Linked DNA regions of Homo sapiens: region 2 is linked to region 1. A link means that fine-mapping ties the variant in region 1 to the expression of a gene that starts in the linked region. Tissue or cell type: gastroesophageal junction. Region 1 holds a variant in brackets; the other region holds the start of a gene. All regions are shown on one strand. Distances are from middle to middle.

Region 1 (8,091 bases):
AAGAGCTTTTGGCTTTGGGTGTTCACTAATTTATCTACACCTGAATTCTTGCTGTTTCATGGGAAGTGAATTTCCTGAGTGCTTGCTGTGTTCCTGGCACAGGGTCCAATGCCTTACATCTCTCTGTTTGAACCCATTTTACAAATAGGGAAATAAGTTCAGAAAGCTTGATGTCTTATCCAAGGTAATAGGCTCTCCAGAACCCAGGGCCAAGATCTTTTCTGTTCGACTTCCGTGCCTAAATCTGGCCTCCCCCAGTGAACACTGTCAGGCACTCAGAGCCAGGGCTTTGGGCAGGTGTGTTTGGTTCTGTTTCTCCTGGGGTGTGGGGTTGGAATATGGGAGTGGCCAGGCCTTCTAGGAGGCCCAGCCTTTACCCATTTGCCTTCTCTCTAGTTATCATCGCTGTGAGTTCAAGATCCCACTAGCCATAAAGAAAGGTGAGTAGTGAAAGCTCTCAGGGTAAGGGAGGGGTTTTAGAGTCTGTTTTCCACTATGAAAAGGGAGAAAGATCGAAGCAGTGGTTGGATGTGTGGAGCTTCTGCCCATGGCCTCAGTTCCTCTGGGGTGGGCTCATTGTTCTGGGGGCTGCAGTGTTCTTGGTCTGAGTCTCCTAGAGGCCCTTGAGGCCTCTTCCTATGACTGTGGGATTGCCGGCCTCTGGAGGGGAGAGTTTCTTATCTACAGATGATCATCCAGGGGGCCCCAGCCCATCCTTGTTGCCTGCCACCCACTGCCAATTGTTGTTGCTCACACCTGACTGACCTCCCTTCACCCCTCCATCCTCTTCCACCCTGGAACTCCAAAACAGCCTGTTAATCCTCCCCATGTACTCCAACCCCAGTGCAAAGGGACACCAGGTCTGGTTCCTACCTAGGGCTGGGGCCACAGGTAGGCTGGGCCAGCTACAAATCTGCCCCACTGTCTTCTCTTTTCAGAAAACGCAGATGGTCAGACAGAAACATGCACGACCTACAGCAAGGTGAGCACCTATCTTCCTACCTGGCATAGCCTGAGAATGAGGTGGACATGAGCCTGCAGGCAGTATGGGGCTGTGTCCTCTAGGCCAGCCATTGGTCACAGACATGTTCATGTCCCTACTAACCCCTGCTCCCCTCTATCCCTCTTGCAGTGGGACAACATCCAGGAGCTCCTGGGCCACCCTGTGGAGAAGCCTGTTGTCCTGCACAGGTGAGTGGGAGTTTGATGTCCCCGGCCACCCCACCTGACTCCTCAGAGCCCAGAAAGCCCAGGGAAGCCTGGCACAGTGGATGTTGCTTAAAAATTACAGAAGTTTCTGATATTGCCACAAGCATACTTCCTGCCCCACTCTGCACATTAGGACTGAGTCAACTGTTCTGTGTGTTCATCTTTGATAGAGAGAATGTCCCCAGGGGTAGCTCCCCTCTCCCAAGCCTACCTCTAGGTATGGGGGCCTTCTCACCCTCAGTTATTCAATAAGGAAGGAGGGCTTGGCTGGCTGGCCTGGGCTCTTTTTCCCTTTGAGCTTTGAGCTGCTGCCTGCTGAAGTCCACAGCCCCGTTCCTGGTTGCCATGCTGCCTGAGATTCTCTCACTCAAGAGGGCCCTCTTGACTCCTCGCCACCCTAGTCCAGTTCCACAGTAACTTTTTTGTCCTGTTGGGCTCTGTATGTATAATTCTGAGTTGAGTGAGACCATCCCTACCCCTAGGATCTTGCAGGCCTGTGTGGGAAACAGACAGACACTCACAGCCATGAGAGACTACTGGCCAGTATCCCATACCCCAGAAAAGACTGGATCCCTTGCTTTAAGGCCGTGGCCTCTGTCTGCCTCTCTAATTCTGAATTCTTTGGCCTCAGGTCTTCCTCCCCAAACAACACCAACCCATTTGGTTCCACATTCTGCTTTGGTCTTCAGCGAATGATCTTTGAGGTAAGCTGTGGAAGCCCTAGAAATAAACTGCCTGGGGGGTTGCTGGTCATGGCAGGGCCAGGTGAATGATGGAGGGAAATTGGGGAGGGCATCACTGCCATAGTGGGCAGATTCATCCTTCTTCAGCAACCGTGTCTGCTGCATACCTGGCCTCCCCACACTTAACAATGAAGGTTCAGAAATGATGTTGAGAAATCTGGGGTCACAGAGGCCGAAGCAGTGGTCTGTGTCCAACAAGATGGGAGGTAACGGATCCCAAGTTTCTATCTGACAACATGATTATAGCAGGGAAGGGAACCACAGGGCAAGTGGGGCCCAGCAGAGGGTGTTGGGGGCCCTCCAGTGGCATGTGAACAAATGCATTGTAGGGGAGTGAGTGGCTCTGGAGGCCCTGCTGACTTGGGAGAACAGCAAGCTGCCCTTGTTTTCCCTGTGGATGCAGTATCTCCAGCAGACACTTAACAGTTCCAGAAGGACTGGACACGTGGCCATGGTAAAGGCTGTGTGTAACCATTGAGAAACAGGCAGATCTCAGGCAGAGGGGGGCCTTTAGCATGAACCAGGGGAGGTTGAGGAGTCGGGAAACCCAGCCATTAGGTGCAGGTATGTCACACAACCTCCAGCCCTCATGCACAGGATCTGCCTACATCCCTTTACCTCTCCCCCTTGACCCACTGTCCTCTTCTCACACCAGGTCATGCAGAACAACCACATTGCCTCGGTGACCCTGTATGGCCCCCCCAGGCCTGGTAGCCACCTGAGAACAGCGGAACTCCCCTAGGGACACCACCACCCATGCCCCTCTGTCCCGTGGAACTGTGCATCACATCCTGCTCAGTGGGCCTCTGTACCACCCTGTGGGTTTTCTTGGACACCTGGCCAGTGCTGAAGGGCTGTTGTGATGTTCTGAGGTTGGGCTCAGGCTGGGTGCTCTGCCATGGGCTGAGTGGCCCAGATATTCTTCTGTCCATCTTTGGCCTGCTGGTGCCAGCAGGGGACACAGACTGCAAAGAGAAGCACAAAGTTTGAGCCTTGATTCCTGGACCCAGGAGCTCTCAACTAACAAGGAGGCAGGAGAGGTCAACCCTTGTCCCATGCACATTGGGAAGACTTGGGGCTCTTTCTGTGACTGAGGACACAGGCACCCAGGATAAGGACAAGGTCCTGCCTTTGGCTCCACATTGCCACATGACCCTTAAGGCAAGCAGGTAGCGTGTCCATAGTACTTGGTTGCGACATTTGCACTACATCCACTTTAGTTACTTGATGAGCTGGCTGTGGCCAGGGTGGCCCACCTGCCCTTCCCTGTTCCTTTCTTGCACGCGCTCCCTGCCTGGGCACACCAAACTGGTTGAAACACAGCTTTCTACCATCCAGGTACATGCCCAGGCCTGGTTCTCACCCCTGTTGGAGTCAGCTTTCAAGATTGCCTGTGCCCCTGCTCTGCCCCATCCTGGCTGGCAGGGCTGCATGTTTCCATCCTGTTTGCCTCTTTTATTTAATGCCAAAGTTTTAGCCAAAGACATCTTCCTACTTTTGTTGTGTTTCAGCATTCTGTTCTGCACTGTGGGCTGGCTCTCTGCCCCAACCCTGGGCACTGGCCCCTGGCTGGGCCATTTCATGGCTCAAAGCCTCTGGGGGCTCAAGGAAGGCTGGGCTGCTCAGTCCCTTCATGGGTCTTGCTAATGGAAAGTAGCATATATGTGCTTTAAAAATATTAATCCTTTTGAAAAGAACTGAGAAGA[A/G]AAATGTATAATTTTATCCCATTTTTAATATTTTGGTCTAGCAACTTGTGATACATAGATGACAATTTTGTGAGTTTTTCAAATGTGTGTACAGATTTTTGTAAATATGACTCTTTTGTAATTAACTCATGTACAGCCTCATCCTGTATAGTTTAATGATGAATGTGCAGGGGACCTGTCTCAGGCTCCTATATGGTTCCTGGGCCTTATAGCCAGGTTTGTGTGGCGCTCCCGACTTTTGTGACTGACTGGTGTCTTCCCATTTGGACTGTGGCCTGGCCAGAGCCCCTTGCATATCCCCACTGTCAGGGGCAGCCAGGACTGTTCCCATCCTCCTGGAATGGGGGAACCTTCCTTATCCCCTGCCCACATCCCCTCTCCAATAAAGCACCTGTGCCCTCAGCAATGGCCTGCCATGTGCTGTTGCTGGGATGTTTGTATTAAGGTAAGTGTGGGTATTGGTTTTTTGAGCAAGGGGGTGGTTGAAGCATATGGGGAAATTAATAGTGGTGGCATCTCAGGGGAAGACATTCCTTGGCTCCTCTGAGGGGATACAGCCTCCAGTGGGAGACTGGCATTGTTGTGTGAGTTCAGGAGGTGAGGAAAGACTAGGTAGGACCGTGCACTCATTTGTCCCTTATGTGTGGCTCCATCCCTGGTGCTCAGCCACACCTGGGCCCAGGAGAGGTTGTGGGAAGCATAATATCTGTTTTCAGATGAGCTATGGCAAAGTGCCTGCCAGGTTCATGAATTCAGGCTGTGGCGGCCGGAGCCCCTCCACCTCCCTGTGGGGCCTGGCCTTGAGAGCCTCTGCATACGTCCGCGTCAGCCTAGGGGGTTCCAAATCCAGCAGAGTGGTAGGATTCCCTAAGTCCCTGCCACCACACCAGAACACACCTCTGTGCTACTAGGAGGACCAGACATATCCACTGCTCTGGGACCTGTTGGACAAGAGATGGTCATCTACCACCCAGCCTTGGCTCGCTCAAAGGGTCACCATTACACGGGTTTCAACTGGTTCCAGCAGGGTGGACCGCCAGGAGCCAAGCTTAACCCCCATCCCCTGGGATCCTGTGGAGACAGGCACCTGGTGATCAGGGAAGAACCACATACACGGCAATAATCTGGGAAACCGGCTCCATTCTGGGTCTGAGTTAGGAGCTTGGGGCTGTAGTGGGGAGCTAGGAGTCCCATTGGAAGGGGCCTGCAGCGACAGGCTGTGGATGCGCACAGGCTGGCCCATGCGGCCCGTGCAGCAGGCGCCACATAAGCCAGATGTCAGCGGCCGAGAGCCCGTGCACTACAACCAGCTCACGGTAAAAGCAGGGGTCGAAGGTGCTCAAATGCGGCGCGGCTGAAGGCTGGGGGATGCCAAAGGTGCGGAAGGCAGGGTGAGGCTCGGGCGTGAGCCGCAGGCGCTGCAGACACATGCCCAGAAAGACGTCGTCGATGGGGAAGAGCTCGACCTGCGCACAGGCGCCAGCCAGGCGGTGCAGCGTGGCCCCGGAAAGCACAAAGCCACCGCCGCCCGCGTAGGCCGGATAGGCGGGCAGGCCGTACACGGCCTCGGGGATGTAGTACTTGCTAGCCCGCGTGCGGATGGGCCGCGCATGCACAATTACGTCACCAGCAAGCAGGTCTTGCGCCGGGTCCCGCGGCGCCAGGAACTCCAGGAGATTTCCCACGTTCACGAACACATCTGCGTCGCCCTTAAAAACGAAGCGCACGTCGGGGCAGAAAGCTGAGGCCCAGGCTAGAAAGTGGATCTCCTTGAGCGTTAGGTTAAAAAAGGTGTCGTCGAAGGCCCAGAGCAGGATGTCCGCATACGCAAGGCTCTCGGCCCGCAGCAGGGCGCGCCAGTGGGTTCGCGCGCCCTCCCCAACTTCGTCGGCCCCGCCCGAGCCTGCGCCCCTGGGCACGCCCAGCAAGAACACGCGGCGCACCAGCGCCCCCTGCACGCGACCCTCCGCGCCCCACGTCTGGCGCACGGCTTGGCGCCGCTCGAAGTCCTCTGCCACCGACTTGACAGCAATAAGCAGGTCCGGGCGGCCACCGGGTGCGCCGTCGCCGCGGCACTTGTGCGGCTGGTTAATGAGCAGTGGAAACCGCCGCTGGTCCTTGGCGCGCAAATAGCGGGCGAAGTCAAAGGGTCCCGTAGGCGTGGGCGGCGCCGGTGTGTCCCCTTCGTAGGCCGGCGGGGCTGCACCCGCGTCGGGTAACTGGAACGCGCGGGGTCCGGGGGTGGGCCTCGGTGCCGCCCTCCCTCGCCCTCGCGGCGCGCTCGCCGTCGGGGCCGCGCCGTCGCGCTGCGCATAGAGTAAGAGGCCCAGGGAGGCGCCAAGGAGCAGCGTGAGCAATGCGTCCCTGCGTAGGCGCAGCCTCCTCCTCATCTCCGCGCGGCCTGCGCCCTCCCTCCCCTGTAAGGGTCGCAGTCGGCAGCAGGGGGCAGCGAGCCCCGCCCTCCCCAGCTGAGGGGGCGGGAGGCCACGCCCCGGGGGGGGCTCCAGCGACCGACGGTTGAGCCCCTTGCGTTGTTCTCCTCCTCCCGGCCGTGTCGCACCGCCGGGACCGGCAGCCTGAAGGGACAAGAAGTTCACCCATGTAGCCAACTCCCCCGCGGCCTCAGCTCCGGCCCAGGACTGCGACCCAGGGCCGGGCAGGGAGACTGGGAGCCTCGGCCCCTCCCCCGCCCGCCTCCCTCGCGCTGAGGCCGAATCCCTTCCACCCTGCCATCCCCTCAATGTCGGGCCCTGGGGTCCCGACACTCACGCTCGGCCCTCGGAAGTGGCGCAGCCCCGGACGCCCTGGCCTCCGGGGCTCAGCGCAGGGTCCGAGGGGCCGCCATGGACCGGGCCCGAGCCAAATGCAGCGTTGGCAGGAAGGGGGACCGGTGCCGTGCCACGTGACCCTCCAGCTGTGCGCGCCCAGACTTCTGGAGCTCAGCTCCGCCCCGGCGCCAGGAGCACTCCGGCCTCAGAGTGGGGACTAATCCCTGAGAGGGAGCCTCCTCACTCTCAGTCCCTCTGGGAAGGGCTGGTCTGGGTGCTCACACCCCAAATTCGCCTTTCTGGGGATTGGGAAGAAGCATCAACTCCCCTGGTTAGCTCCCCCAACTATCCACTCCCCACTCCCGCGTCTCTGGAGTGGGGCGGAGCCTGGGCTGCTAGGAGCCCCTGAGCAGGCCGGTTCCAAATGCGCATGAACCTGGCCACCATCCCGGGCGGGCCTCTCCTCAGCAGCCCTGATTCCATCAGGCAGGGTGCATACGCTGCCCCCGAGACACATGGCTGTCTTCTTACTCCTGGTTCTGCCATGCTCCCCACCCCCAGTAAACACACGCACGGGACAAACAAGGCAGCCCACCCAATCCTCAGGGCAACTCTGCCAGCAGCTCTCATTCATGCCCAGATGGGGACACTGGGGGGCTCTTCGGGGAGTTAAGTGACTTGCCCAGGATCCAAAGGCCAGAAAGCTCTGCCCCCAGGTCTTCTGAAATTCAGGCCAGGATTATTTTATCTGTCCTTGCCCCGCTCATTCATCCACTGGGATACAGAACAGGGGGCCAACCCAGTCTGCTTTAATTTCACAGGCAAGCACTTCAGCCTGTCTCCCCGGGGGCTAATGGACCTGAGCCCAAGCCAGGTGCAGTTCTGAGTCCCCTGGTCCCCAGCATAGCCTACTGCAGGTAGAAATGATCAGGCCTGTGCAGCTGCAGGTCAGACAGGGCTGGCAAGGATGGGGACAGCTTGGGAAGACTCCTGGCGGAGGCCTTGGCTAAAGGATTGCTCTGGGATGCAGGTGGACAGAGGTGCTCTGCAATGGAGAGCTAAGTCCTTGCGCAGCTCAGCTGCCAGCTCTCTCTTTCTTGGTCCCAGCCCATGTGGTGGAGCCTGGAATAGACAGCCTCTACTGGTCTCTTAAGAACCCAGCCCCATCCTCTGTCCAAGGGCTATATCTGCTCCTGACGGCTTCTTCCCACCAATGTTCAATCTTAAAAAGCCACCTCTCTGGCTGGGTGTGGTGGCTTATGCCTGTAACCTCAACACTTTGGGAGGCTGAGGTGAGTGGATCACTTGAGGTCAGGAAGTCAAGACCAGCCTGGCCAACGTGGTGAAACCCCCATCTCTACTAAAAATACAAAAATTAGCTAGACATGGTGGTGGGCACCTGTAATCCCAGCTACTTAGAGGGCTGAGGCAGGAGAATTGCTTGAACCTGGAAGGTGGAGGTTGCAGTGAGCCAAGAACACACCACTGCACTCCATCCTGGGCAACAGAGCGAGACTGTCTCAAAAAAAAAAAAAGGCCAGTCGTGGTGGCTTACTCCTGTAATCCCAACACTTTGGGAGGCCAAGGCAGGTGGATCACTTGAGGCCAGGAGTTTGAGACCAGCCTGGCCAACATGGAGAAACCCTGTCTCTATTAAAAATACAA
Region 2 (8,091 bases), 39 kb before region 1:
CAGGCAATTGAGCTAAAATTGTGTGTGGAGACCAGGATCTACGCACCCAGTACACAGTGGTGGGACAGGGACAGAAAAATTGCAGGAAGCACTTGCCTTCAGAAAGGGGAAGAATGAAGTCACCGGTCAGTAACAATTATGAAATGACACTGGAAACCATTTGAGGGCCCTCTGCCCTAACAGAGGGGAGTGTTCTTTGTAAGGCCTATTAGGATGGGTTCCCTGCTCCACCATTTTCCATGACTTTTAGCCCCATCCCTCATTTGCTGTACACATTACCTGTCATTCCTGCTTTCAAACTGGCTTTAAAAAAAAAAATCTAACTGGGCGCGGTGGCTCACACCTGTAATCCCAGCACTTTAGGAGGCTGAGGCAGGTGGATCACCTAAAGACAGGAGTTCAAGACCAGCCTGGCCAACATGGTGAAACCTCGTCTCTACTAAAAATACAAAAATTAGCTGGGCATGGTGGCACGTGCCTGTAATCCTAGCTACTGGGGAGGCTGAAGCAGGAGAATCGCTTGAACCTGGGAGGCGGAGGTTGCAGTGAGCCGAGATCTCACCACTGCACTCCAGCCTGGGCAACAGAGTGAGACTCCGTCTCAAAAAAAAAAAAGAAAAAAAAATAACTTGGCAAATGCAATTAATAAATAACCATGGTACTAAGATTGTTTTCCAAGTTCTTCAAGTAATGTTTCAAGCTTGTTACATTTCTTCCCTTCCAAGTTATCACGTGACAGTTTTACCAGAAGGATTGACATCCTTCCAAACGCCAATGTCAGTTCCTCCAATCACCGTCCTTCCAGCTACCCAAGCTGGGAAAACTATGTCGTTATTCTTGACTCCCAGTCTCTCTCATCTCCCACATGCAATCTGTAAATCCTGCCAGTGGATTCCATCAATTCTGTTACTATTAGATGTTTTAAAATTTTAGTTATACACAAAGCAATTACCTGTAAGCCAGACACACAAGTACAGACCTCCTAACAAATCTGTGAGATTGTTACAGATTTTACAGAAGAAACTAAGGCATGGAGAGGCTAATTAACTTGTCAAGGCACAAAGCTATTAAGTGGCAGAACTGGGATTCAAATTTTGAGTCCCTGAGCTTAATCACCATGTTCTGACCTGAAGCTGTCCCTGCATGTCTGGCTTTGACTGCTACCATGACTACTTGCCCTCCCTGAATATGCTTTTCATTAGCCAATTCCATATTTCTGAACATCCCTACCCTCAGTTTGGGGGAATGGCTGTAGCTGACATTCTCCTGAGTTGGCCTGCTCCTGCCAGGCACCTTCTGCTTCTATTGTGTGTGTGTGTATTGGGCTCTGGGCCAAGGCCTCCTAATATCACCATCCCAAAGCTGTTATTCCCACCTTGGATAAAAACCTGGGTGAATCAACATTAAATGAGCAAAGATAAACTTCTGTTTATTTTTTTAGAGATACAGTCTCATTCTTTTGTTGCCTAGGCTGTACTGGAGTGCAGTACATAGCTCACTGCAGCCTCAAACTCCCAAGCTCGGCCGGGCGCGGTGGCTCACGCCTGTAATCCCAACACTTTGGGAGGCCGAGGCGGGCAGATCACAAGGTCAGGAGATCAAGACCATCCTGGCTAACACTGTGAAGCCCCGTCTCTACTAAAAATACAAAAAATTAGCCGGGCGTGGTGGCGGGCCCCTGTAGTCCCAGCTACTCGAGAGGCTGAGGCAGGAGAATGGCGTGAATCCGAGAGGCGGAGCTTGCAGTGAGCCAAGATGGCGCCACGGCGCCACTGCACCCCAGCCTGGGCGAGAGTGCGAGACTCCGTCTCAAAAACAAAAACAAAAAGCAACAACAACAACAACAACAAAACTCCCAGGCTTAAGTGGTCTTCCCACCTGAGCCTCCTGGGTAGCTGGGACTACCTGCATGTGCCACCACATCTGGCGTGTGTGTGTGTGTGTGTGTGTGTGTGTGTGTGTGTGTGTGTGTGTACGGGGTCTTGCTATATTGCCCAGGCTGGTCTCAAGCTCCTGGCCTCAAGCAATCCTCCCACTTCAGCCTCCCAAAGTGCTGAGATTATAGGCATGAGTTACCACACCTGGCCAGATAAACTTTTGTTGTTGACTAACATTGTTCACAGAAATCTGCCTACTATTCCAACAGGGAATTTCTTAGGGCGCTCCCCGACAACTTTGTTCTTTCTGTTTGGGGGTTACCCAAATTAGAAATCCTTTTCACTTTGTTATCCAGAATGATGTGGTTTCTTCTTTGTCTTGCCTCTGGTACAACCCCACTGGGCTTATCCCACAACCCCACTGGGCTTATCCCACCCCAATTTAGGCCCCACCCATCTTTCTCCTCCAGAAATAAGTCCCCTCCAAGTTTTGAGAGAGTCTTGCTCTGTTGCCCAGGCTGGCATGCAGTGGGGTGATAATTGGCTCACTGCAACCTCTACCTCCTGGATTCAAGTGATTCTCGTGCCTCAGCCTCCCAAGTAGCTGGGACTGCAGGCATGCACCACCACACCTAGCTATTTTTTCTATTTTTAGTAGAGACGGGTTTTCACCATGTTGGCCAGGGTGGTTTCAAACTCCTGACCTCAGGTGATCTGTCTGCCTCGGCCTCCCAAAGTGCTGGGATTACAGGCGTGAGCCACCGCGCCCAGCCAGACACTTTTAATTGACTAAGATTGCTCCTCACCAATCTTAAGATTTTTCCCCAGATTTCCTTCCCAAGCTATCTAGCCCAGCTGCCCAACTAGGCTTTTCTAAACATATCTTTAATGCTTGTCATGATAAGGAATAATGACCCCCTGATTCCTGTCCTCTGCCACTCTATTAGGTATGATTGACAATGTTTTATTTTTCCAGAAATGTTCTTTCTTTTTGGTACAGCCACTGTTTCTTTTATTTTTGTTTTTACAGAAAAAAAGGCCGGGGGAGGGGGGTGGTGGGTGGTCATGGTATGCATACTTCTGCACCTGGCTTTTTTCTCTTGGAGTTCCTTCCACATCAACATAGAGACCTACTTCACTTTTTATTATTTATTTATTTATTTAGAGACAGGATCTTGCTCTGTCATCCAGGCTGGAGCCCCGGGGCTCAATAATCACAGCTCACTGCAGCTATCCTCAAGCTATCCTCCCACCTCTCAGCCTCTTGAGTAGCTAGGACTCCTGGCCCAACCTACTGCCATGACACCAGCTAATTTTTTTTTTTAATAGAGACTGGGTCTTGCTATGTTGCCCAGGCTGGTCTCAACTCCCGGGCTCAACCGATCCTCCCACCTCATCCTCCCAAAGTGCTGGTATTACCGCTGTGAGCACTGCTCTCAGCATTCACCTTTAAAAACATATCTCTATCTATCTATCTATCTATCTATCTATCTATCTATCTATCTATCATCTATCTATCTATCTATCTATATCACGGTTTATTTAGCCACTTCCCTACTGGACATCTCAGTGACCCAGTTCTGTTGTTTTGGCATACAATGCTGCAGTGGACAACCTTCTCCATGTAGTTCATTTTAATCAAACAGCGACTTCAAATTTTGATAGAGCCTCCAAAGAAACGCTAGTATCAAGCCAGTTTGAGAATTTAGTATGCCACTCTCTCCCCTACTGAAAACCTTCTTCCAGGGGCAATGTAATGGAAAGGACTTGGGTTCTGCGCCTAGAACCAAGGAGCCTTGGGTCTTTAACATCTCTGGGCCTCATGTATTCGCCTATGTAAAGTCGGTATAATCTCGCATCTCAGGTTGGTTGTGAGAACCCAGAGACTGCCTCCGTGAAGGCTTGGCATCAGCATAGGCCTCGGCTGTCCTTTAGTTTCAGGGTGTCCCGGGGCACGGGCCAAAACCTCAGGCTGAACCTGCTAGAGGAACCTTCCTGTCCCTTGCAGATTAGGAAAACTGTGGCACAGAAAGCGCCAAGGGGTTGATCAAGACCCCCACAGCTTTGGTCCACGCTGCTGCCGGCGGCTTCGGATCCTGGTCCCGGGGGACTGCGCACATTTGGATGTGGTCAGCAGGGAGGCCTGGCCTGGCCCCTTCCTCTTCTACCCAGTCCTCTCCCCGAACCAATTCCGACCCCTAACGCCCACAGTCCTCACTCGCTTACGGTTCGACCCTTGCCCCAGGGGCGACTGGGTGGGGCCGTCATTCCTGAACAACTAAAAGCTGCTGCGGCCAGCGTCACCTCCGGCCCCAACGGAGACGGTGGGGGCCGTGAGGCTTAGGGACTCCGCGTCCTCCCTCCTGCTGGGCCTCAGCGTGCCCTCTGTACTTGCCTTCTGCTACCAGTGAACGTGAGTGGGACGTGTGTGTAGACAGCAGACGGGTCTTGTGCAGCTGTGTGACGTGTGTGTTGTGTGGTGAACCCTTCTTTATGTAGATATGTGAAGTGTGTGTGCTGTGGTGCACAGATGTAGGGGCTCACGAAGTACTGGGCTCCTTGCTCCTAGAGCCCGAACAGTTCCCAACGTTACAGCCCTGCCCGACTCAGCCTCCGCAGAGACGGCGGCGGGACCCGCAGTTTGCGCGTGCGCGGCTCCGCCCCAGGCTCCTCCCTCGCGCTGGCACTCCCGCCTTCGCCCGGCCCTCCCCGCGCTTTACGGCCCGGCACGCCACTTTTACTGCAGTCGCGCCCGCCGCCGTCGTTGCCCCCGCTGCCGCGGCTGCTGCAGGTGAGGTGAAGTGAGGTGAGGTGTGGTGTTGGGCCGGTGCTGCTGCCGCTGCCGCCGGGGAGGAGGTGGAAAGCGGGGCTGTGGCGGGCCGGCGGGGGCGGCCTGTCAGCCGCTGCTTTGTCTCCTTAGCTCGGGTCCCTTCTGCGCTGCCGCAGGGAGGCCGCCCGGGCCAGGCGAGCCGAACCAATGCTGGACCTGGAGGTAGTGCCCGAACGCTCTCTGGGGAACGAGCAATGGGAATTCACGCTGGGTGAGTTTGGGGTCCTCTGTCAGGACCCCATTCGCTGATCCTTGCTTTCTCCTGGGCTCTTCCCACCTGTTCTCAGTCTCTCACGCCCCTGCGCCCGCAGCTCCTCACCTCTTTCGTCCTCTCGGCTCGCTGGGCTCCAGGCACTAGATACCCGCTCCAACTGGCCCGATTTGCCTGTCAGTTGCTCGTCTCGGGTCTCAGCAGGGTCTCTTCTGGGACGGTGGAACAGTAGTAGTAAAGACAATAATAGCTTGCTCTCCCCAAATGCCTAATGCCCGGCCCTGCTCTTTTTGGACGTAATTCTCTCTAGTACCCCTCGCCGGCACCTGAGGATAGGTACTGTTGTTATTCCCATTTCCATTTTACAGACTAAATAATGGCTGAGAAGTGGCTGACCCCTCTGATCATCACTGTGGCCTGTGGTCTGTCTCCCACTGCTTTTCTGGGCTGTGGCTTCCTTCCCCTTTTTAGGAGGGGAAACCTAGGCTTGGAACCCATGATCAGATGTTGGGGCTCTGGTCAAGGGAGTTGAGTTTGTGTGTATTAAAGGAACAGCTGACTTGCTTCTCTCTTTTTTTTCTTTTTTTTTGAGACGAAGTCTCGCTCTGTCGCCCAGGCTGGAGTGCTGTTGCGTGATCTTGGCTCACTGCAACTTAACGCCTCGTGGGTTTAAGCGATTCTCCTGCCTCAGCCTCCCCAGTAGCTAGGATTACAGGCACGCGCCACCACACCCGGCTAATTTTTGTATTTTTAGTAGAGACGAGGTTTCACCATGTTGACCAGGCTGGCTGGTTTCGAATTCCTGACCTCGTGATCCGCCCACCTCGGCCTCCCAAAGTGCTGGGATTACAGGCGTGAGCCACTGCACCCGGCCCCGCTTCTCTCTCTTTTGAAATATAGTCTGTATCGGATGCTGTAATCCTAAACCCAGACCTCAGTTGTGACAGGTGAAGGTTGGATGAAATAGGAGTTAGGGAGAAGTAACATTTAGTTTCTAAAAAATGCAGTTTGGTCGTTTTGGGGTTTGCTGGCCCAGCCTTCTCCCTTCACCCTCTCCATTTCCAGCATCACTACTTTTATGTGTACAAGGATGTTTGCATTCAGTAACCCCTGTGTGTTTACTTTGATGTCCCAGCACTAAGAAAAGGGGGTGGGGTAGGTGTTGGTGCTGTTTGTTTGTGCAGGCCTGAACTTTAGTCACTCTAGTGTGAGCTACTGGACTAAATCAGCTGCTCCATTGGATTATAAATTATCCTTGACTCTGGAAGACTTATGTCTGTGGAGACAGTGTGTTGGAGAAACCAGGTGGTACAGATTGCTGGTAAGGCCCTGCTGATGCTTAGTGGCTACATATGTCCTGTGTGTTGTAAGAGCTAGTTTTTGTTGTTGGTGTTTTGTTTTAAGACAGAGTCACTCTGTTGCCCAGGTTGGAGTGCAGTGGCACAATATCGGCTCACTGCAACCTCTGCCTCCCGGGTTCAAGCAATTCTCTTGCCTCAGCCTCCCTACTAGTAGCTGGGATTACAGGCGTCTGCCACCACACCCGGCTAATTTTTGTATTTTTAGTAGAGATTGGGTTTCGCCATGTTGGCTAGGCTGGTCTCGAACTCCTGACTTCAAGTGATCCGCCTTGGCCTCCCAAAGTGCTAGGATTACAGGTGTGAGCCACCATGCCCAACCATAAAAGCCGGTTTAATTTAGGGGAGTTGGCCAAATTCTTTCATAACTTAACACCACTCCTGCAGAGTTCTTTCCAAAATATTAGCTGGTACAAAATGCTCCATTCTCTCGTGAAGCACTAAGAGCTTGGTTGGAAGGCTGGTGATACCATGCTAATGCTGTTTGGCTTCTGGTTAACTCCTTTCCTCCCCTCTCCTTGACAGCTTCTACCCAAGCAAGATCCTCCCACGGCTGGATAAAAACCACAACCATAGCTTCAAACTGTGCTTAGTAGTGTGACTAGGTTGTGGATCTCTTGGTGGTACAAGTATTCAGAGTCCCTTGGTCAAAAGCAGTGGTAGGGACTGGGTGCAGTAACTCATGGCTGTAATCCCAACACTTTGGGAAGCTGAGACAGGAGGATAGCTTGAAGCCAGGAGTTCAAGACCAGCCTAGGCAACATAGTGAGACCTCGTTTCTACCAAAAAAAAAAAAAAAAAAAAAAGCCAGGCCTGTAGTCTTAACTACTCGGGAGGCTGAGATGGAAGGATCACTTGAGGCTGGGAGGTCAAGGCTGCCGTGGGTCATGATCACACCACTGGGCGTGATCCTGGGTGACAGAGAGAGACCCTGTCTCAAGGAGACAAAAAAAAAAAGTAGTTACTAGGATATTAATTGAGATGAGGATTTCCAGAAAACTGAGTGAGAGAGCAAGGCTTCTCTCAGCTGTTGTTTTGATACCCTAACCCTGACTCCTAGCTCTGCTAGTTTCCCAGGAATCAAGGGTTTACACAGTTCTTACAAACTGTCTAAATAGCAACCAAAAACAGTGAGAAGGGCATTTCTGTATATTGGGTCAAGAATTGAATTTTAGGGGGAAGCTCATAGACTGGCCCAGAGGCTTCATGATTCCCTTGGGTCTTAAAATTCATTTTTACATGGTGTCTGCCTGAGAGATGGTGTTAATTTAACTTTATCAGACTTTAAAAATGGAAAGTCATTTTCCACCTCTGTCAATCTCCTCCCCCACCCTGAACACGTCCAAACTACATTTGGGGCTGTTAGGTAGGGATAGGTCTCGGAAGGGAATCTGCTTTAGAATTACATGCCTAGGCTAGTGAACCAGGAAGAACTTACCTCTTGCCACCACAGGCTTGTAAGATAGGTGTTGTTATCTCTTTTTGCCAGGTGAGGGACAGGCTCAGAGAGAGAGATGATAAACAAAAGTCGCCAAACAGGCATATCCTGCATGCCACTGCTCTTTCCTTCTGAAAGTGGACTCAACTTTGTCACCAGGTTTCTTATTGGAATCTGTGCAAATGCAGATGCAATTATCTGCCTGGCATCACAATGGGAAGCTGCATCCTGGCAGCTCCTTGGCTGCCTTCCTGGTTGTATAATGTTGGATGATTAGGGAAATGCGAGCAACACAGGGAAAGGAAAACCTAGGCCAAGCAGAATCTCTGTGAATATGAATGTCACTGATGATTTGACCAGCAGTGGAGTAAAGGCAG

The links. PIP is the estimated chance that this variant, and not a neighbour inherited with it, causes the effect.
Region 2: PHAF1 starts here. The variant in region 1 is fine-mapped to the expression of PHAF1 in gastroesophageal junction (GTEx, PIP 0.98). The same link has a PIP of 0.9 or more in monocytes and monocytes after interferon gamma.

The regions. Positions count from the first base shown.
Region 1 is chr16:67,144,438-67,152,528 of GRCh38, forward strand. It overlaps PHAF1 (phagophore assembly factor 1), which reads left to right. Exons shown (of 16, transcript NM_025187.5): 12 at 397-440; 13 at 939-982; 14 at 1,133-1,191; 15 at 1,841-1,913; 16 at 2,608-4,107. The coding sequence ends at 2,694. B3GNT9 (UDP-GlcNAc:betaGal beta-1,3-N-acetylglucosaminyltransferase 9) reads right to left here and starts at 6,561. Exons shown (of 2, transcript NM_033309.3): 1 at 6,428-6,561; 2 at 3,667-6,234. The coding sequence starts at 6,048. The coding sequence ends at 4,840. RefSeq lists silencers at 5,917-6,346, 6,357-6,516. The variant A/G (reference allele first, on the strand shown) is at 3,659.
Region 2 is chr16:67,105,322-67,113,412 of GRCh38, forward strand. It overlaps PHAF1 (phagophore assembly factor 1), which reads left to right and starts at 4,620. Exons shown (of 16, transcript NM_025187.5): 1 at 4,620-4,918. The coding sequence starts at 4,855. RefSeq lists enhancers at 3,452-4,194, 4,195-4,936 and a silencer at 4,496-4,755.